Regions from separate parts of the Homo sapiens genome. Here regions 2, 3 and 4 are each linked to region 1. The links come from fine-mapping of genetic effects on gene expression. A gene starts in region 1. Each other region holds a variant in brackets. All regions are shown on one strand. Distances are from middle to middle. Region 1 holds the start of AP3B2 (adaptor related protein complex 3 subunit beta 2). Region 2 overlaps GOLGA6L9 (golgin A6 family like 9). Region 3 overlaps FSD2 (fibronectin type III and SPRY domain containing 2). Region 4 has its middle 37 kb from the start of RPS17.

Region 1 (5,221 bases):
GACATAATTCCTCAGTTTGGCCTTCCCGCCTCTATATAGTCCAATAACAGACCAGCCTTTACTGGTCAAATCACCCAAGCAGTTTCTCAGGCTCCTGGTATTCAGTGAAACCTTCATACCCCTTACCATCCTCAATCTTCAGAAAAGGTAGAACGGACTAATGGTCTTTTAAAAACACACCTCACCAAGCTCAGCCACCAACTTAAAAAGGACTGACAATACTTTTACCACTTGCCCTTCTCAGAATTTGGGCCTGTCCTCGGAATGCTGCAGGGTACAGCCCATTCAAGCTCCTGTATAGATGCTCCTTTTTATTAGGCCCCAGTCTCATTCCAGACACCAGACCAACTTGGACTGTGCCCCAGAAAACTTGTCATCCCTACTATCTTCTGACTAGTCATACTCCTATTCACCATACTCAACTACTCATACATGCCCTGCTCTTGTTTACACTGCCGGTTTACACTGTTTCTCCAAACCATTACAGCTGATATCTCCTGGTGCTATCCCCAAACTGCCAGTCTTAACTCCCTCTTAAAGTAAATAAATAATCTTTGCTGGCAGGGCTATGCTGAACCTCCTTGGGCACTCTCTAATTGGATGTCCTGGGTCCTCCCAATTCTTAGTCCTTTAATACCTGTTTTTCTCCTTCTCTTATTCCATTTAGTTTTTCAATTCATACAAAACCGTATCCAGGCCATCACCAATAATCCTATACAACAAATGTTTCTTCTAACAACCCCACAATATCATCCCTTACCACAGAATCTGCCTTCAGCTTAATCTCTCCCACTCTAGGTTCCCACGCCACCCCAATCCCGCTCGAAGCAGCCCTTCAAGGCTATGGAGAAGCAGTATCTCTCCATACCACCCCCCGCCAAAATGTTTGCTGCCCCAACACTTCAACACTATTTTATGTTATTTTTCTTATTAATAAAAGAAGACAGGAATGTCAGGCCTCTGAGCCCAAGCTAAGCCATGATATCCCCTGTGACCTGCACGTATACATCCAGATGGCCTGAAGTAACTGAAGAGTGAAAATGGCCTGTGCCTGCCTTAACTGATGACATTATCTTGTGAAATTCCTTCTCCTGGCTCATCCTGGCTCAAAAGCTCCCCCACTGAGCACCTTGTGTCCCCCCACCGCCAGAGAACAACCCCCTTTGACTGTAATTTTCCACTACCTACCCAAATCCTGTAAAACGGTCCCACCCCATTTCCCTTCGCTGACTCTTTTTTCGGACTCAGCTGGCCTGCACCCAAGTGATTAAAAAGCTTTATTGTTCAAAGCCTGTTTGGTGGTCTCTTCACATGGACGTGCGTGAAAATCCTCATCTTCTCCCCCTGTCCCTCTAAACCCCCACCCAATATCCAATTAATCATCAGGTCTGAGGCTTCCACCTCTTCCACAGCCTCAAATCTTCTGCCTCTCCCCTGGTCTAGGCCACAATCATGCCAGGCCTGTGAACTTCAAGACCCACCTCCCTTGTCTCTTGTTCAATCTGGCCCACCTCCAATCTCTTCTCCACAATGCAGCAGCCTGACGTCCTTCTAAAATATAAATCTGATTATGTCGCCTGCTTAGAATCCTTCAGGAGTCCTCCCCACCCTCTTTTCTGGTCAGTCCAGTGGCTCACACAGATTGTGGCCTGGCTCTCAACCTTCCTGAAAGCCCTTTCCTCTGCCTGGAACATACCTCACGCTCCTGTCTTCCTTCTCTCCGGCGCCAGAGACTAGGTCCTCTCCCTGCTCCCACTGCCCCCATTACACTCGACTGTCCCTGACTGCTTCTTCATCTGTGCTCCCCTCTAGAGCATCGTGAGGACAAGAAGGGTCTCATGTTCACAGTTGTATTCCGTGACTAGTTCAGGACTCGACACAGTTGGCTTTTCATAAATGCTTGTTGCAGAATTTACGAATAAACAAATGAAGAAACAAACGAACGAATCAAAGGTGGGGGAGGGTGTGAAGGTGGAGCTGAACTACAGGGGCAATGCCAGGAGCAGGGATGTGAGGGTCAGATGGAGATGGGGACCAGAGGGAGGGGAAATGAATTTGCAGCAGGGCCAAGCTGGGAGGCTGTGCAAGTACATCCAGGGCCCGCCTTCCTGAAGAGGCCCCAGGCTCAAGCTCAAGTTCGCTGACTCAGACCCCTCCCCCACATTTTTGGGAAGCCAACCCGCCTAGCACGAAAAAGGAAGGGAACCCCTAACGCAACGCCGCAAACCGGAGAAACACCTGGAACCGGAGGGTTTCTCCTCTCGAAACTGAGCTGGCCCATCCCCCGCCAGCCCCTATCTGCCCCCCTCCGCGTCCTAGGCCGGCCCCTGGAGCCGGGGTGCCAGCGCTGCCCGCGCTGGGCCGGGGCTCCAGGCCGCAGGAGGGGGCCGGGCGGGCTTCCGGTCGGCGCGGCCGGGGCGGGGCCGGCGCTGGGGCCGGGCGCTGTCCATGGTGCCCGCGCGCCTCGCCCGGTCCCCGGCCCCAACCCTCCCGCGAGCTTCCTGGCGGGCTCCCTCACCGCTTGTAGTCGGAGGAGAAGATGCCGCCGCTCGCGGGGTCGTGGCCGTACTCGGGCTCCCCGGGGCCAGCGGAGCCGCCCTTGTCTTCGCTGTAGGCGGGGGCGGCCGACATGGGGCGGCCAGGGAGACTTCGCCGAGGAGGAGGTTGCGGGGCCGGAGGCCGGCTGGAGCGGAGGAAGGGAAGGCGGGCCGGTCCGGTCCGGGCTGGCGAAGGCGGCGGCGCGGCAGGGGTTCAGCAGAGGCTGCAGTGTGCAGCGGCGGAGGCTGCGCGCGGATTTCTCAATCAGGGCCGCGCGCTGAGGTCTTAAAGGCACCGGCGCCAGCCGAGCGGAGGGCGTGTCCGCGAGGAGGCGACAGGGGCGGTGCGTCAGGGCCTGGCCCCGCCCATCCCTAGGAAATGCCCTCTTCAGGGCGTCTTCTGCCCTTTAAAGCGACTTGGCTCGTCTCCAGATCTAAAGGTGGGCGAGTCTGCTGGACGGACGCTGGGACCGTCTTGCAGGGGATGTGGAATAGCTGCCCCCACCCCCGACCACCTGGCCTCGGCGGGACGGGCCTCTGGGGCTCCGCTCTCCCCAGACGCACGCGCGGATGCTCACCCACGCCGTGGAGGGAAAGCGGGAACTGGAAAGAAGGCTGTGCCCGCAGGCTGGGGGTTCTAGAGCGGGAAGGGGTCACCGCACCCGAGGACCGGCCTCAGATACCTAAGGACGCTCCCTTTCCCGCCCCACCTTTCCTACAAAATCTGGCTTGGCAGCAGGAAGCCGAGGAGCTTCCTGGAGGTGGCGGAATTTAAGGAATTAAGGTCAGGGAGCTCCGAGGAGCCCTTGGGGGCTTAGAGAGATGGGAAACAGGATACAGAGGACGGTGAACATCTAATTAAGCTTTGGAAAGTAGTTTAATGAATCTTTCTGAAGCCTCCACGTCCACCCAGGAGGGCCAAGGTCATGCTTAATCCGGGGACACGTCCACGTCCATTGACACCTGAAAAGGAAGAGAAGGGTCTGGTGTGACCACCAGGGCTCCTGAGTCATGTGAGCCCTCCAGTTCAGCTCCCGAGCCCGAGTGACCCCTAGGCCCAAGGAAGGAAGGCTTGGATCCGATGGAAAGTAGTGAATTGGGCTGGGGGAAGAGGTAGGATCCAGTTGGGCATCAGTTGAGGTGGCTGGAGTCTTTTAGCTGGGCATGGGGACTGGAGGAGTTCCTAAGGCCTGAGTCTTGGTCTGTAACTAGCATCCCGAAGTCTCCATGGGCAGAATTGGCGGGCCTACCTGGGAAGGAGTGGGGCCCAGAAAGGTGGAGCTTGGCTCAGTAGAAAAGTTCTATTGGGGGTAATTCTACTGGGGTAAGGTTCTATTGGGGTAATGAGAAGGTTCTGTTGGGATAACCTAGACAAGTGGGTGGGTCCGCTTGGTTCCGGTGGCTTTGTGCCTGCCAGAGAAAAGTGGATCTTGAATTTGGAGAAAACTGGCCTGGGTGGGGAGTGGGAAGAGAAGGGCCTGGATTTTGCAGTTGCGCGTTTATAAGGCGCTTTGGCTAGTCTGCTCAGGAGGTGGGATGGGTCCTGTGCAGGTAGCTGGGCCACGCTCACCGACCTGCTGGAGCTCCCGTCTATTTGCCGGGGGTCCAGGCTGGGACCTGGGACGAGCAGACACAGTGCAAAGTGCACACAGTTGCTGCGCATGGAGTGATAGGATGGTGGGTCCGCGTCCGTCGCTTCGCTCACTCTGCGCAGCACGCGCCAGCAGGAGCGCAGCAGCGGGCGCTGCCCCTGTTTGGATACGATGCCTTTCCAGGAGCCCAGAAACTTCCCAGGAGCCCACAGCCTCCTGAGTTCTTGCCTGCGGGGATCGCCAGAGGGGTGCGGATCAGAGCCAGGCTTAGGTCCTATGCCCTGTGATCCCGCACCCCCATTTCCTGAGACCTCAGGGACCCTGAGTGCCCAAACCCCATTTTCAGAGAAACGTACCCCCAGCCTGGGACTTCAGTCTTTATCCCCGAGTAGCCAGCTCACTGGTGGGGCGTGGCTTGGCTGGGCAGCCTCTCCGCAGACTTGGGCCTGTGTTTCTGCTGGAGGCACTCACCCTCAAAGTGGATGATCTCTCCATGGCCACAGTATATGCCAACGTGGGCCCCGCACCAGCGTCAGGTGGGGGGAATCAGCCTGAACAGGAAGACGTCTCCTGGCTCAGGCTCCCTGCCCTCCAACTACACAGCCTCGAAGTGTTGACCCAGGAAAGCCTCAGAGAGGAAGAACTTAATGGTGCTGACTGCCCCAGTCAGGGCCTGCATGGAGAAAGGGACCTGCCTTCCTGGCGTTTACACAGGCCTGGGATAGGGAGGAGGTGGGTCCTTCCAATGACCATAGGTCGGATGGTCTGCCCAGGGCTCAGGGAGACCTGTCTTGGGCTTGGGCCCAAGGCAGAATGTCTTCACTGCCACACACTTGCCTCCTTGTGCTTAAGGGACTCCAGAGGTCCAGATATCACAGATACATCCTGCCTCGAGCCCCTACTGAGAACCCTTCAGTTCCAGCAAATGGTGCCTCCTCCCCATCCAACTGTCTTCTCATCTCAAAGTCCAGCCATTCCATTCTCTCCTCCTCCCCCCTGCGCTAGGATCCCCTTCCCCAACCAGCTCCCATCTTGCCACTGCTCCTGAAGGCAACACCAGGGACTGGGTGGGTGTCAGCTGGTACCTGAGTT
Region 2 (5,221 bases), 270 kb before region 1:
CACTGTGCCCAGATTCCCACCCCCTCCCTCTCTCTGAAGATCTTAGTGAGCTGAGCCTCACTGATAGCATGGAGGCTGCACCGGGAGAGGACAGGGAGGGTTCTCCCCCATGACAACCCCACTGCACAGCAGATCCAGCAGCTGCTTCCTCTAATGCAGGACTCCCCAGGAGCACCCAGGCTTGAGTGGAGAAGCTGTTGGTACAGGAGAGGCGGCAGGAGGAGCAGGAGAGGCTGCATGCCATTCTTTTCGGGCTGCCGAGAACAGGGAGCTAAACATCACCATCATCTAAGAGCGGGTCAAGAAATTGAAAAAAAAAAACAAAACATTTAAGGGGTTAATATCCTACACAATTCATTTACTTCATTTGAATGTTAGAGCCACTTATGTTTGTGTTTCTAATTTATAGTTTAAATTTATTTGTGTTTCTAATTTATAGTTTAAATTTATTTGTTTCTAATTTATAGTTTAAATTTATTTGTGTTTCTAATTTATAGTTTAAATTTATTTTTGTTTCTAATTTATAATTTAAATTTATTTGTAAAAAGTTAAATGAGAGTGGGTCTTTCTCTCATGTTCACTCTGGCATCTTTTAGCATTTCTTTAATTTGATAATTATAGGACGTTAGCATGCATATCGAGTTTGCCCTTATGTGGTGGGAGTTCAAACACACAAAGACCCACTGTATGCACACAACTGTTCTTGCTGGTTTGGGATAGGCTGCCATGCTTTTTTAATGTTAGTACAGCCTGTATATTCATTACGGAATTCAGATAAAATTTCCTTATGTTCTGCTGTTATGTTTGATCGAATCCTAATCACAGTGAGCTCTTCATTAGCTCAATATGTGGTTTGCCCTCTGGAAACAGCCTTTCCCCCTTTTTCTGTGTATTGGGGATGGGAGTAATAACATTTTGGGGAGGTTTTTAAATCTCCCAGAAGAGGAAAGTGGCCTGCTTTGGCAGGTGTGTGCAGGATAGAATATGTTTCATTTGTTCCGGTGCCAAGAATGAGCGCTGTACTACGGTAGTTCCCTTAGGATTTGTATGTGCTCTAGGCTCATGAAGATACTGCCTCATGAGCTGTGGCAGTTGTACTCTTTTTTGATGACCTGAAAAGGGATTATTTCTGAGGAATGAAAGGCTCCCATCATGACTGTGGATGTGGAAAACCTTTTCTAGCTGAGAGCATTTATATCTACAATACATTTTAAAGTCAGAGTTCATGTTCCCTGTTTTAATCACATGACTACATGTCCCAGTACACAAAAGGGCACTGGTTGGCGTTCTCCTTAATGTATTTAGTAAAGATCAGAAGAAATCCTTTAAGAGTTTAAATGCCCCTGGAACAGGCATATACAGGCTCTAGTCAAGAATGAATTCGAGTGAAGGAAAGCTGTGTGACACCTGGCATTCCTCTGTGTTCATGGAGCTTATTTGAGGCTAGAAGATGGATTTTACCATCTAGACCTCTCTGGCTAATAGCTAGTCTTCAACCATCTGACATAGGAATTTACTTCTTTTCCTTGAATGGAGAACACTTTAAAAATAATAACAAACATTATTATAAACTAATATATGTGAGAGTACTTAGTTGAAACAAAAAGGAGTTTTAGTAGACAGTATTATACTACATTTGAAAATCAAGGAGCAGTTTATGCAACGTAAAACGTTTACAAACTGCAGCACAATCTACTGTTCGTGAATGTCAAAGTGTCATGAGGAAAGTGTCTATACAATCACAGAGTTATATTTCCTCACAAAGTTCTTTACAAAGAGTGAAATATGTTTTTATACCTCTCAGTTTCAGTTAGAGGCATATTTTGTGTAATATTTATGGCTTAAAATGGACTAAAGGTCCTGTTCTTGCCTTGTCTGAACTTGCCGCTTTTGCATTCTTTGAGTTCAGTTTAAAGACAGTTACTTTAAGCCCATTTTAAACCCTCAGGCTAGAAATCGTACCACTGTTAATTAGCCACATTATTTGGTCTAACAGTTTATCATTCTGAAACTGAGCTTACCTAATACATTGATAAATTATTTCAAAGGTATTTTTATAGTTCAAATCGCTTCACTTTTACCCTGACACGTATAAATGACTAGGAATGACCTTCAGATAGCATTTAGCAACTGTAACCAATCTGACAATAATGTGTTCATCAGGTACCTGTGGATTAAATCACATACTGGCATATTTAAGCTGAATGTCAGTCTGAAAAATAAATGTACTATATTAACTCAAATACCACTCTCTGTGTAGGTATTTTGTCATATGTTTAAGAAAAAGCTAAAGAGAATGGAAATCCTATGACAATAACTATGACAATAACTATGACAAGTCTTTCTTCAAAGTGCATGCAGTCTTTTGCAGTA[C/A]CTCATTCAGCCAAGTATTTGTTCTCTACCTCATTCAGTATAAGGCAGCCTTTAATTTGCTTAGAAGGCAACATTAGAAGGTTAGAGTTCAGCAGGAACATAGAATTTTAAAATGTGACTTCAACTGAATAAATTTGAATTTCTGTAGGGAGTAAAGAATCAAAACACCTATTTAAAGACTGCAAAATATGATAATTATTTTTAAAGTAATTGATTAAACCTGGTAGGTTTTCCCAAAATGAAAAACAATCAGTTCTAAAACCAAAGCTGATTTTTAGAAAATGTGAAAATGTAAATCAACCCTATCCATAATAGATTCTCTAAAACTTTATCTTACAGTCACTTTCAAATAACTATTCAAAAATGTAACTGCTATATTAACGTCTTAAAATAATTTAAAACATTTTAAAATATGAATACTGTAGTTTAAAACAAAGAATCTAGGGGAAGGAAAAGTAGACAAAGAAATGCCAATTCCAGTCCAAAGCTGTATTTGCCAAGTTTTCTTAGAATGACTTTTACCGATTTATGAATTCTTATACACAGAATGCATAATGGAAATACTGATTTTTGTCTAAAGTGGCATTATTGACTGCTGCTGTGATGCTACTATAATGTAATACATTATTAAATTGTTTCAAGGTGCTGTTTTGCCTAAAAATTTTGTGTGTCTTGAAAACTATAGTACTGGGTATTGAGACTCTGCAAATTCTCGGCATGCTTGGCATGAGGTAATCGGTTTTTATTCTTACAAAATTGTAACTATGTAAGTGTGTTTATTAAAAGAACACAAACTAAAAAAGTTAACAGGAATTAAAGTTGTGGGATGAAAAAGTTACAGGATAAAAAAATACTGTGGAAAAGTGGCAAAAAAAAGTTGTGGAAAAAAAGTAAAAAAAAAGTTTTATGAAAAGTTATTTTAAAAAGTTATGAAAAATTAGTTACAGGATTTAAAAAAAGTCATGGGATAAAAATAAAAATAAATAAAAGCAGGCCCCTGTCAGCATAAGCCTGGAGAAGTGGGTCTGGAGTCTTCACCCCCACCATGTCCCTACAGCCCCTCCCCAGTCAGCCCTTTACCATTAGGGTAGCAAGACAAGACCCTTGTCTAATGGAGGGAGACAAACAGACCCTTTACCACCTTGACCAAGGCTGAGTCCTTACATTTCTGGATGATGATGTTTGTTATTTAAGAGCCAGAGGTTGGTGGAGTTGGTTTGTTTGGAGGAGGTCTGATGGCCTTCTTACTCTCACCAAAGCAACTTTTCCCTCAGGGGGGCTCCCATCTTCTTACTCAGAGAGGCAGCTGAGGCGGGACAGTGGAGTTAACTGTAGACCAGGCCAGGGCACAGGCTGCTGGGGGTGGCCCCCCTTCCCCCGTGTACATACTGTAGCTGTGTAACATTCTGTATTGTACCTAGCGGAGGTTGCAGCTGGCATATGAGGAAGAGGTTCTTATAATTATTCGCGGCTGGGAAACTTATTTATTGCTAGCATAGGAGCGAGGAAGGAGGCGGGGATGGGGTCATGGCTCCCTGGTGATGGGACTCCTGTTTTTTTTTTTTTTTTTGCTTTTGATTTTGGAATAAATGGATTTAGCCATACTGCTCGGCCTGGTATGTTCCCATTTCCCTCACTGGGTCCTGCAGTTTGTCCCACTGAATGAGGAGCCCCAGAGTGTCTCAGCATGTCCAGCTGGGCTGTTGGGGACCTTCCAGGCCTGTTACCTGTATGCTGCCTGGTGACACCTGGTGGATTTCATGGGGACTGCCATGGCGCCTACGGAGTACACTCTGGCCCTGACAGCCAACTGGTTGAGAAGCCTGATCTAGCTGTGGCAGGGAAGACAGATACCAGTGCCCAAGGGCACTGACTTCCATCCACCCCAGGTGTCTTCCGTTCTGTCCCCCTGCCTCCCTCTCCTGTCTGCACCGGGTGGCCTGTCTGTCCCTCCAGAGTGCCGGCTGCCCCGCAGGTTCCCTCCAGGCTGAGTTCAGGGCCCTGTCCCCTAGTGGCCAGAGCCGGCTTCACAGGGTAAGAGCCAGCTAAGCTCCAGGGACTTTCCAGGAAAAGTGTCCCTTGAAAAGGGTGTGACCTTTTCACTGCTCCCAACAGCACCCTAAAAATGGCTTGGCCTTTTCCCTCCCCTGAGCTCCATAGAGAACACAGCCAGCAGAGGACACATTCTCTGTCATCCAGAAATGGGTTTCTCAGCCGAGGGACAGCAGGACTGGTAGAGACTGTCAGGCCACACAGCTGCCTGCACAGCACCGCCATGCTTGGCCAGAAGGGCGGGAGGGATGGCGGGGGCTGGCTGTCCACAGGCCGCGCATGTCCCGGAAGCTCACTGGAGGTGGTGCACTTTGGAGGGGCGATGTCAGGAGACAGCTTCCTCTTGCTGGGCTACAAGACTCCACAAACACAGCACGGGGACTGATTCCCAGTGCTAGAGGCGAGGCAGTTGGCCACGTATATATATGTATATATGTGTGTGTGTGTGTGTGTGTGAGAGAGAGAATTTATAGCTATTTATAGAACAGGGCAGGGGCATACCACAGAGGGGGCACAAGTTTCAGCAACGGTCAAACCTGGACGTGTCAGCTCACCACTACAACAGACTAAGTCACAGAAGAAGGGGGCTGGCTTTGGGGCTGGGGGAGCCACTGTCAAGTCACAGGACACCCACCCAGGCAGGCTTGGAAAGGGAGGTCTCTGAGAAGAGGAGGAATCTGTTTAGAGGTCGAAGTGGGGCCTGGGGCTCCCCGGATGGGATGGACTTGCCTGACCCAATCAGCTGGCAGTTGGAGAGAAAGCAGAGAGAAAACGGGTTAGAGAAAAGCCAGAGCTG
Region 3 (5,212 bases), 47 kb after region 1:
TTTTTTGAGACGGAGTTTTCACTCTTGTTGCCCAGGCTGGAGTGCTATGGCGTGATCTTGGCTCACTACAATCTCCGCCTCCCTGGTTCAAGCAATTCTCCTGCCTCAGCCTCCTGAGTAGCTGGGATTACATGCGCCCACCACCATGCCCGGCTAATTTTTGTATTTTTAGTAGAGACGGGGTTTCATCATGTTGGCTAGGCTGGTCTCGAACTCCTGACCTCAGGTGATCTGCCTGTCTTGGCCTCCCAAAATGTTGGGATTACAGGTGTGAGCCACCATGCCCAGCAGGTTCATATTTTTAATGTTTCCTTCTACTCCCCAAGCACACACAAATTTGAAAGCTGCTTTGCTTTCTAATAAAGAGGCTTTTCCTTTGATTTTGGAAGATAATTTGATGTCTCTTTTCTCTTTGCAGGTATATGAGCTCCCTGAAAGCACAAAGCAGTTATTTCCATCTTCAGATCATTCAGAGATTATGAAGGCACAAACCCTGCCTTCAATTTGCTTATAGTCAAGTGGAGCAGACACAAGTCAATGATTGCAGTATAGCCACTGAAGTAATCTAAAAGAGGTGAGTGTGGCACTTAACCTCTCCTGGGAGGGGGAGGAATAAGGCAGTGTTTCCAAGAGGTGATTTTGGAGCTATACAGGCATTAGGTAGACAAGGAAGGGGAGGTCCATTCTGGGTGCCTAGGACTCTGTGGCTGATTTATAAATCGTAAATGGTACAAAAAACAGTGTTGAGTATCTTTTACCTTTCTCCAGAGTACTGTTCTTACTTTTGGATAGTGCTTCTTGTTTTTTCCTTCCCTCTCCCTGTCCCTGTCACCTTTAAATTAAATGAATGTTTGGAAGGAAGTAGGAGGGTAAGAATCTTTCTGGGTGGCAGAATAATAGATGGGTCTACCAAGAGCGATGTATATACCCAGTAAAGCCATCTCTAAAACTGTGTTTCTGCATTGTTACAGTGCATAGTTGGGAAATCTCAGTTTTGTTGGCTGTGTACTTTCCCAGTGAATGGATTATATTCCTTTCTGCGAGCCAGTCTGTTTGAATTTAAGGGCATCTCTTAAATTCCTTTCAAGCAAGAGACCTAACATTTATACTTAGGAATGAGAGTAGTAGAGACAGCAAGATTAGAATCCAAGTTCATATACCAAAACATTTTTATTTGCTATGTCTGAGTGACTACATGTTGTTTGAATCAACTGCAGGCTAATTTGTAACATTTCAAATAAATGATAGTTTAATTCCTCCAGGATTTGAGTAAGGTGAAAATAGAGCTAAAAACCATGATTCTGTCACAGTCTGGGAAAATGAAAAAGCAATCAATTAGTGAGTTGGGCTTAATTTTTTTTTTTTTTTTTTCTGGAACTGGTGATAGCAGAAAACAAGCAGTAAAGTAGTCAGACATGATATACTTGACAAGAACCACCACCTGTTCAGTAGCAACTCTAAAATAAGTACTAACTTAGGGGCAGTTGTTGTGCCCAGGTCATAGTCATACTCCTTCCAGGAGACTTCCTGATGACAGAAAAGATGCTGACCAGCTGGGGTCTTCTTTCCAAATAACTTTTCTCTTGCATTTAGATTAATTAACCATTGGTTACAGTGAAACAAGCATATGTACAGAGTTAATCTCCTATAGCTTGAAGTTATACATGATCTTTATTTGAGTATCTTGACTTGTTAAAGGACAGTGTTTTAAAAGCTGGATTTGGTTATGTTCTTCTGGAGACTAAGAAAATAGAGTCCTTGAAATCAAGCTGACTCTGCTTTTAGCCTCCTAAATGAAAAGGTAGATAGAACAGGTCTTGTTTGCAAAATAAATTCAAGACCTACTTATCTACCAACAGCAATTACACGCTTTCCATTGTCTTCCTATAGAAAATAGGAGTAGTACACTTATAGATGAGAAAACTGGAGAAAGACATAGTGAACATGTGAGAATCTTGCTCTACTAATTGATAGGAAGGTGACTAGAAATTGGCGAAGTTTTCTTGGTAAGTTGAGGAGAGGACTTTTCTTATAGTGCAGTCTGGTAGCTGAACCGCCTTGCATCAAGACCAATGTAGTCTTATTTACAGAATGCCACATCACAGTGAATTGTGCTGTGGACAGCTTCCAGTGTGTGAGTTGTGGAAGATGATGATTTTAACAGATTTTGGAGGATGAGAAGTATTAAGAAGAAGGCCCCACTGTCCATGCATTTGCTCTGCTTTTTACTTTTGACCAAGTATACACTTCAGAAATATCTTATTGGATGTATACAAAGTGATTGTGTGTCATTTGAACCAGCAGGAAGTAATTTATTAAACACACTTTTCTAAATAAAAGTCATTTAATTTTATCAGAAATCAGTGTCATTTTAGATTGCAAGTCTCAAACCAACTTTCCAATTCTGACTTGTAAGGGTGCCTTAAATCCTGAATACTGTACTCTGTATTACTAAACCCATGTTAGTTTACGCCAAGATTCTGTGGTGGTTTTACATATTCTTTTTCCCCTTTGTTAAGGTGGGGAGGCCACAGCTTATGTGAATGACTTTCTCAGGAGTTATAAAGTGATACAGGTAAAGCTAAGAAAAGAACAGATTTTGATAACTTTTGTTTTAACTGTCCAGTGTTAGGGATTGTGGCTACAGTGGTCTAATTTTTAAAAACTCTTTTTTTTGCTTTGTTTTTTAACAGACTTATCAGCAGGTTGCAGGTGAACATGGCCTTGAGGTAAATCTGTCCCTTGCTGAATACAGTTTCAGTAGATTGTTTATAGTAGTTTCAGGAATTGAGATTTTTTACAAAAATACAAAAGTTTTGCTTGGTTCTGTTCTAGATGTTTTCTTCTAAATAAATGAGAAAGATGTTTCAACAAAGGCTCTTTATGCTGAATAATTGTGATGCTTGAAGTTGCTAATCTGCTTTAAGTGGATTTTAAATGTCAGGCAATTCTAGACAGTTTTTTCTTGGTCAAATAAAAATTTAATTAAAACTTTATACGTGTTGAGTTTTTAATCCATTTATCCGTGTTCATACTAACGTGTAGTATTCCATAAAGCCTATTAGAACCCTGAATTCAAACTTGCCTTCTCTGTGATATCCTGTTTCTTACTTGGTAGTTTCTATTTCAGTAGCTGAGAACTTTTTTTTTTTTTTTTTTTGAGATGGAGTCTTGATCTGTGAGCCATCTCGGCTCACTGCAAGCTCCACCTCCCGGGTTCAC[G/A]CCATTCTCCTGCCTCAGCCTCCCGAGTAGCTGGGACTACAGGCGCCCGCCACCAGTCCCGGCTAATTTTTTTGTATTTTTAGTAGAGACGGGGTTTCACCGTATTAGCCAGGATGGTCTCGATCTCCTGACCTTGTGATCCATCCACCTTGGCCCCCCAAAGTGCTGGGATTACAGGCGTGAGCCACCGCGCCCGGCCGAGAACATTTTTAAATATACATGATATGTATCTTTTAATTGTTTATAACTGGAACTATTTCTGTGCTTACATCTGCTGTCCCTTGTTTCAGAGTAGACAGTCCAGCTTGGCAGGATAGGTGTGTGTGTGTATAACGAGTTATTAAATTGTCAGTGTGAATTGTTAATTCAGGAATCTGAGCTGCCATTTATACGAGTAGGCAGAGTTTAGTAGGAGATGAGAGTCTTTCAGTTTGTCAGACTTTGCAGGTGCTGGAAAACATCAGAGGTTTTTTGTTTGTTTGTTTGTTTGTTTTTGAGACAGAGTTGCGCTCTTGTTGCCAAGGCTGGAGTGCAGTGGCACAATCTCGGCTCACTGCAGCCTCTGCCCCCGGGTTCAAGCAATTCTCCTGCCTCAGCCTCCTGAGTAGCTGGGATTACAGGCGCCCACCACCATGCCCGGCTAATTTTTTGTATTTTTAGTAGAGACGGGGTTTCGCCAGAAAAAAGAAAAGTGGACTTTTTTTTTTTAAACACAAAACCTTAAATGATGAGATTAGGGCATATCTGGGTTTAGAGGCATCTGTGGGACATGATACTGAATTGTAATTGCTTCACAAATGGAATTATTCTGCAGCTTCACTCACAAGCTTTGAAAATGCTGTGTGTGCAGAGCTTAAGTGGCAACTGGAAACTTGAACAGGAGAACCAGGAATGTAGCTGATGGAGTTGGGCATTGAGCTCACAGAATGGCCTGGGGGCAGTGAGGCAGGATGCCTGAAAGCTGCCTAGCTAGAGATCAGTCTTCCTTCCCGTGCTCAGCTTTGCCCTTTGGTGGGCTGTTAATTTCTTTTAAAAAATTGTTGTGCATTTGCTAATATGCCACAGATGCCCTTCTGTTCTTTCACGCTGCCTCCATTCTAGGTTTTTTCCCATTTCTTGGCCATAGGTCCTTTGCTGTAGTTTTGAAAGAGCCCTGCCATCCTTCACATGGAGAGCAGTAAGAGGCCAAAGAGCAGTGGCTGAAGAAGATACTAATTTATTCAACAAATACTTGGTGACAGCTGTTATGTGTTAGCCCTTGGTGATCTAGCAATGAACAAAACAGGCACTGTCCCTCCCTTCATGGAATTAGGCATTATAGAGGTAATTTCAAAATTAGAGAGTGGTGCATACTGTGTAGGAGTGGAACAGGGAATACCCTGTATGCAGAGTACACAGTGGAAGGGACCTCACCACAGTGCTGCTCACTATTGGGAAAACGAGGGTAGAAGACATTGAGAAGGGCACACAGCTTCCCTGGTTCTCTACAGACAGCCTCTCGCCTTCTCAAGTGTATTCTTGGCTGACTCATGAAATGCATGGGTGTACTGGTGCTGCTGGAGCCATTAAGACTACCCTCGTCCTCTCCCAAGCTCTCTAGGTCTTGGAAACTCAAGATATTTTGCATATACACGAATATAGTTTGACAGCTTCAAAGACTTTTGAGTTCGTTTAGTCTGAGCCTTTATTTTACAGCTGGGCCTGGTAATGACTATCCTAGCAGCACACAGGTAGCAGCACACAGGACTAGAATCCAGGTTGGGTGAAATGAGCGCTAGCACACCAGTCAGATAATAGCATGAGCCATAAATTGTGCTGGGCACATGGTGCTTAAGTGCCAGGTTCAGCCAGCTAAGGCGTGAGCAGCTGCGAGAGGGGTAGGCATGGAAGACAGGAAACTGGACATCAGAATGTTCTAATAGAAAGTGACATGTTTTGGCATTGAAATGCCATTATGTACCTTTAGACACCCAGGCTTTTCCAAAGAAAA
Region 4 (5,221 bases), 210 kb before region 1:
AAACATAGGAGTAAATCTCTGTGACTCTGGGTTAGGCAAAGAATTGTTCTTAGATATGATGCCAAAAAAAAATCAACAACAGAACATTATCAAAACTGAAAATTTTGCTTGAAAGGATAGCATCAAGGAAGTGAAATGACAACCCACAGAATGAGAGATAATTTTTGCAAATCATGTATCTGATAAGGGACCTGTAGTCAGAATATGCAAAGAACCCTTACAATTCAATAAGACAACCCAATTTAAAAACAGGCAAAGGATGTGAATAGGCATTTCTCCAAAGATACGGAAAAACGGCCAATAAGCACATAAAAAGATGCTCAAAATCATTTGCCATTTGGGAAATGCAATCAAAACCACAATGAGGTATCACTTCACGCCCATTAGGGTGGCTATAGATCAGAAAGTCAGATAACATGTGTTGGCAAGCACGTGGAAACACTGAAGTCCTTACACACTGCTGGTAGGAATGTAAAATGGTGCAGCCACTGTGGAAAACAGTTTTCCAATTTCTCAAAATGTTAAACACAGTTATCATACACCCAAGCAATTCTACTCTTAGGTATATACCCAAGAGAAATGAAAACATATGTCTTCACCAGAACTTGCTGTTCACAGCAGCATTATGCATAATAGACCAAAAGTGGAAACAACTCAACTGCCCATCAACTGGTGAATGGATAAGTAAAATGTGATGTAACCAGTCATTGGACTGTCATTCATTAATAAAAAGAACAAGGTACTGATTCATGTTCTAACATGAGTGAATCTTGAAAACACTATGCTAAATTAAAGAAGCCAGTCACAAAAGGCCGTGTATTGCATGATTTTATATATACATGAACTTTTATATATATATAATTATATATATTATATATAATTTTATATATATAAATTTCTATATATAAATATATAAAATCATATATCATATATGATATATATTTTTTCATATACATCATATATATTTACAAAAATTATATATCATATATCATATGATATATGATATATATCATGATATATATGATATATGATATATATCATATGAGATATATGATATCATGAGATATATGATATCATATGATATATATGATATAGATATCATATGATATATATATAATATGATATATATGATAGATATATTATATATGATATATATGATAGATATCATATTATATATGATAGATATGATAGATATCATATTATATATGATAGATATGATAGATATCATATTATATATGATAGATATGATAGATATCATATTATATATGATAGATATGATAGATATCATATTATATATGATATCATATATATACCACATACATCATATATACATCATATATACATCATATATATCATACATATATATGAACTTTCCAGAATAGGTATATCAATAAAGACAGGAAGTATACAAGTGGTTGCCACAGCCTGAGAGGAGCAGGGAATGGTGAGTGACTGCTAATGGATATGGCACTTTTTTTGGGGGGTGATGAAAATGTTCTGGTCAGACAATGGCAATTACAAAACTGTATACACACGAAAAACCAAAGAATCACACACTTTAAAAGGGAGGATTTAGCTCGGCATGGTGGCATGCGCCTGTACTCCCAGTTACTCGGGAGGCTGAAGCAGGACTGCTTAGAGCCCAGGACTTCAAGGCTGCAGCGAGCTATGATCGCTCCACTGCACTCCAACAAGGATGACAGTGCGAGACCCGTTTTCTAAATAATAATAATAATAATAATAAATAACCCAAGGTACCCAGTTCACATGCAAAACCACTGGTAAACATAAATTATCTCCAAGTAATCTAGAAAGAAAATGAGCACATAAGACGTCTTCTAAAAACACACATATATTTCTTTACATGTTACATTTAACGTAAAAATCAGCTATGCAGAAGTTACATGAACATTTTATGTTGGAAAGGTAAATGACTATTATTAATACAGAATGGTTAAGTACATTTATGTTTTTATGTACAAACGCATAAAAGGAAAAGCATCCTTAAAATAAACACCATCAATGGCTCCTCGGTGGTCACAAAACAAAATCCTCACACCTTTGTCTTCCTTCACAATTGAGCTTTATCCACCTTTTCAGGCTTATCTCCCATTATTACCTGACACAAACTTGGGTGGGCCAGAGTTTCCACTGACCATCCCCCGACTATTCATCCAACACTATGTTCACTGCCTCCCATTCCTGACCATTTGCCTTTTGTCTTCAACTAATTCTGGGGACGTTTTGTCCAAATAAATGATCCATATTCTTGAAGGCTGGAATCAAGTCCTATTACAAATATATTTTCTCACCCTCTCCAGAGCATAGCAACCCAGCATCTACT[G/A]GCCTCTCACAGCTCTAACCATCCACAACCCTAAGCTGGCTTCTCATCAAACGGGTACTTTTCACCACCCAAATTCAATTAATTCACTCTTACAATAATGAAGAATAGTCGCCTACAGCCTACCTTTTCCAGCCTTGATTCAATCATTTATCAATTTTATCTTCAAAGTCCCTCACTTCAGGGAGATGATATATCAGCTTTCACCCAGAGTCCTAAAGAAAACAGCACTCTTGCCAATGACATAGTGCCACCTAGTGGCAACATAACGTAAATCACAGTGGCAGTAGGAGGATCTCCACACTACTTTTACAGGAATGCACTGCAGGTAAAAAATAAGAAGCTACAGTACTGTTTGGCAGGACAATTTGTTTCATACGTGCATACTATCGCCCTGACTAAATTAACTCTCAAGTCTTACAGGTATTATTTGTTTTCAGTTCCATGCACAGATTAGCCATTTAGTACTTACTAAATCAAACTCAATTTCTGAAGTGTCTTACACCAATATATTCATGCACATATGGTTAAAATTTTCCTTGAGGATCTATCATGTGAGAGTGTGGCTTATTATAACAAGTAAACAGAACAAATAAATACAAAATGAAAAGAAATCGTATGATTTACTCGCATATAAGGGAGCTTGTTGTGGATTAAGTTTCATGACCCAGGACACTGAAACAGAAATGGAATAAATGAGAATAAAATTAAAAGTTGTCATCAAAAATATAGAAGCCATCTAAAGACCTAGGTGTCAAGCATAGCTCTATGAGTACAATCCCGTGCCTGAGATTACCATATGCCCAGCTGTATGCTATACACTAAGAGATTTAGGAAGGAAGCGGGGTCAGGGATTGACCCCAGACTCCATCTTTTCAAGTGGGGAAGAAAGATCTTCCGATTGAAAAATAAAGGCAAAAAAGGCTTCACCGTCACAGAAGTTTCAACAACCAACAGGATATTTAAAACAGTTATCAAAGCAAAACCATTGTATGTTCACTTACATTTTTACATAGTCCCTCAAACTCACAAAATGCTGTTTACTCAGGGACTTCTTCCGGTCTTACTAGGGAGCCTGGAAAGTGAGGGGAGGATTGCAAGGGACCACTAGAACCCTCTTCCTCAATTCCCCTTCTCTGAGAAGGGAGGCTACAGCTTGCCTCTCTAACCACTAAAAGGCATGACCCTCCTCAAAGTTAATAGCCGGATTCCCTGATAGATATTTTCACTAAATGAATTCTCATAAAACTCTCACTAAGATTTAGAGAAGGCTTCCAGGGTTGAATTCCTGAACATTAAGAACAGCATGTTTTTTAAAAGTTTAACTTGGTGATTGGACCAGGACTTCATCTAGGCTATGAATGCTCAGAATGGTAGGTCCTTTACCAAACAGCTTGAGTTTGTGTATAAAGTGATCTCATCCTCTTAAGAGTCAGAGAAACAGAACCAAGCGACTTCACTATAATTTGATCTGAGGAAGTTTCTTACTCACAATAGGTAAATGAAGGCACATACTAACCAGCAATATAAACAACAATATCAAGTGTCGTTCACACATGCAAAAAACAGACAAAATCCCAAACTCTGTGTTCTAACAAATCGCAAAAACCTCACTAACAATAAATTGAAATGACCAAATGTTTGGACTGAAAAGCAATGCCTTGGTAGCCTAGCCATGCCTAACTCAAATAACAGAACCATCTCGATGTTAAAATCCTCACAGATCAAGCTGTGTATGTCTCGGGTCAAGACTTCGCCAAAAAGCAGTGAGCACACACTTAAGAGGGAAAAAATCTACCTCAGCCTCCTAAATGCAATCATCTCTACACGAGTTGCAGGCCCCAAGCTTCAACGTGTTCTGCTGGACAACGCAGTAGAAAGCTGACAAGCAGGTGGCCTTCCCACACTGACTGAACCACCTCCATGCCCATGTCCATTCATTTTCTTGCCCACCCCATGTGCTATAACAGACCTCCTGGCTCAGGGCACTCTTTCCTTCCTGACTGCCTTCACTTAATGACTTTGTACTTTTAGGTGCAAAAATTATCTGCAGAAATCCACACTGAAAACCAAGCTTGAGAAAGGCAGCAATAACCAACATTTTTACAAGAAGAACAAGGTCAATATCAAGCCCATCAGATTCAAATAGCAAGCATGGATGAAAATGAAAGATTGAAAGGCTTGAGTGCCTTCTTAATGTATTAAATATCCATTTAATTTACAATTAAGCTCACTGTGCTCACTGGCCTTTTAATCAGCTTTCCAGGTCCTGCTCAGACTTGCCTAGGACATGGGAATGAAAGAACCTATACATTTATGGACCAATCTACCTTAACTAACTTGTCAAGTGTTCCTGCATCAAGCAGAAGAAACATCAGTGAAACTGATACAGGAATTAACCCCTTGTTAATCCATAAAACTTAAAGGAGCGGGATCCAATCTTCTGGCTTCCCTGGGCCACGCTGGAAGAAGAATTGTCTTGCGCCACACATAAAATACACGAACACTAATAATAGCTGCTAAGCTTTAAAAAAATTGCAAAAAAGGAAAATCTCATAATTTTTTGTTTGTTGTGAGGTGGAGCCTCACTCTGTCACCCAGGCCGGAGTGCAGTGGCACCATCTTGGCTCACTGCAACCTCTGCCTCCTGGGTTCAAGCCATTCTCCTGCCTCAGCCTCCCGAGTAGCTGGGATGATAGGCGTGTGCCACCATGCCCAGCTAATTTTCGTATTTTTAGTAGAGACGGGGTTTCACCATGTTGGCCAGGCTGGTCTCAAACTCCTGACCTCAGGTGATCCACCCACCTCGGCCTCCCAAAGTGCTGGGATTACAGGTGTGAGCCACCGTGCCCGGCCAATGTTTTAAGAACGTTTACGAAT

What was found. PIP is the estimated chance that this variant, and not a neighbour inherited with it, causes the effect.
Region 2: its variant is the best candidate, but not a certain one, in a credible set for the expression of AP3B2 in pancreas (GTEx, PIP 0.63).
Region 3: its variant is the best candidate, but not a certain one, in a credible set for the expression of AP3B2 in lung (TOPMed, PIP 0.64).
Region 4: its variant is the best candidate, but not a certain one, in a credible set for the expression of AP3B2 in atrial appendage (GTEx, PIP 0.90).

Annotation. Positions count from the first base shown.
Region 1 is chr15:82,707,076-82,712,296 of GRCh38, forward strand. It overlaps AP3B2 (adaptor related protein complex 3 subunit beta 2), which reads right to left and starts at 2,800. Exons shown (of 27, transcript NM_001278512.2): 1 at 2,519-2,800. The coding sequence starts at 2,631. It also overlaps the pseudogene LOC338963. RefSeq lists silencers at 2,324-2,583, 2,804-2,853.
Region 2 is chr15:82,436,120-82,441,340 of GRCh38, forward strand. It overlaps GOLGA6L9 (golgin A6 family like 9), which reads left to right. Exons shown (of 9, transcript NM_198181.4): 9 at 160-3,034. The coding sequence ends at 292. It also overlaps the pseudogene DNM1P36. Among named protein-coding and RNA genes, the nearest start is that of GOLGA6L9, 8.9 kb to the left of the region's middle. RefSeq lists enhancers at 3,885-4,876, 4,154-4,656. The variant C/A (reference allele first, on the strand shown) is at 2,374.
Region 3 is chr15:82,754,211-82,759,422 of GRCh38, forward strand. FSD2 (fibronectin type III and SPRY domain containing 2) reads right to left here. Exons shown (of 13, transcript NM_001007122.4): 13 at 1,152-5,212. The coding sequence ends at 5,138. It overlaps SNHG21 (small nucleolar RNA host gene 21), which reads left to right. Exons shown (of 3, transcript NR_110098.1): 2 at 419-574; 3 at 2,694-2,996. It also overlaps SCARNA15. Among named protein-coding and RNA genes, the nearest start is that of SNHG21, 6.3 kb to the left of the region's middle. The variant G/A (reference allele first, on the strand shown) is at 3,223.
Region 4 is chr15:82,500,552-82,505,772 of GRCh38, forward strand. It overlaps the pseudogene GOLGA2P10. Among named protein-coding and RNA genes, the nearest start is that of RPS17, 37 kb to the right of the region's middle. The variant G/A (reference allele first, on the strand shown) is at 2,345.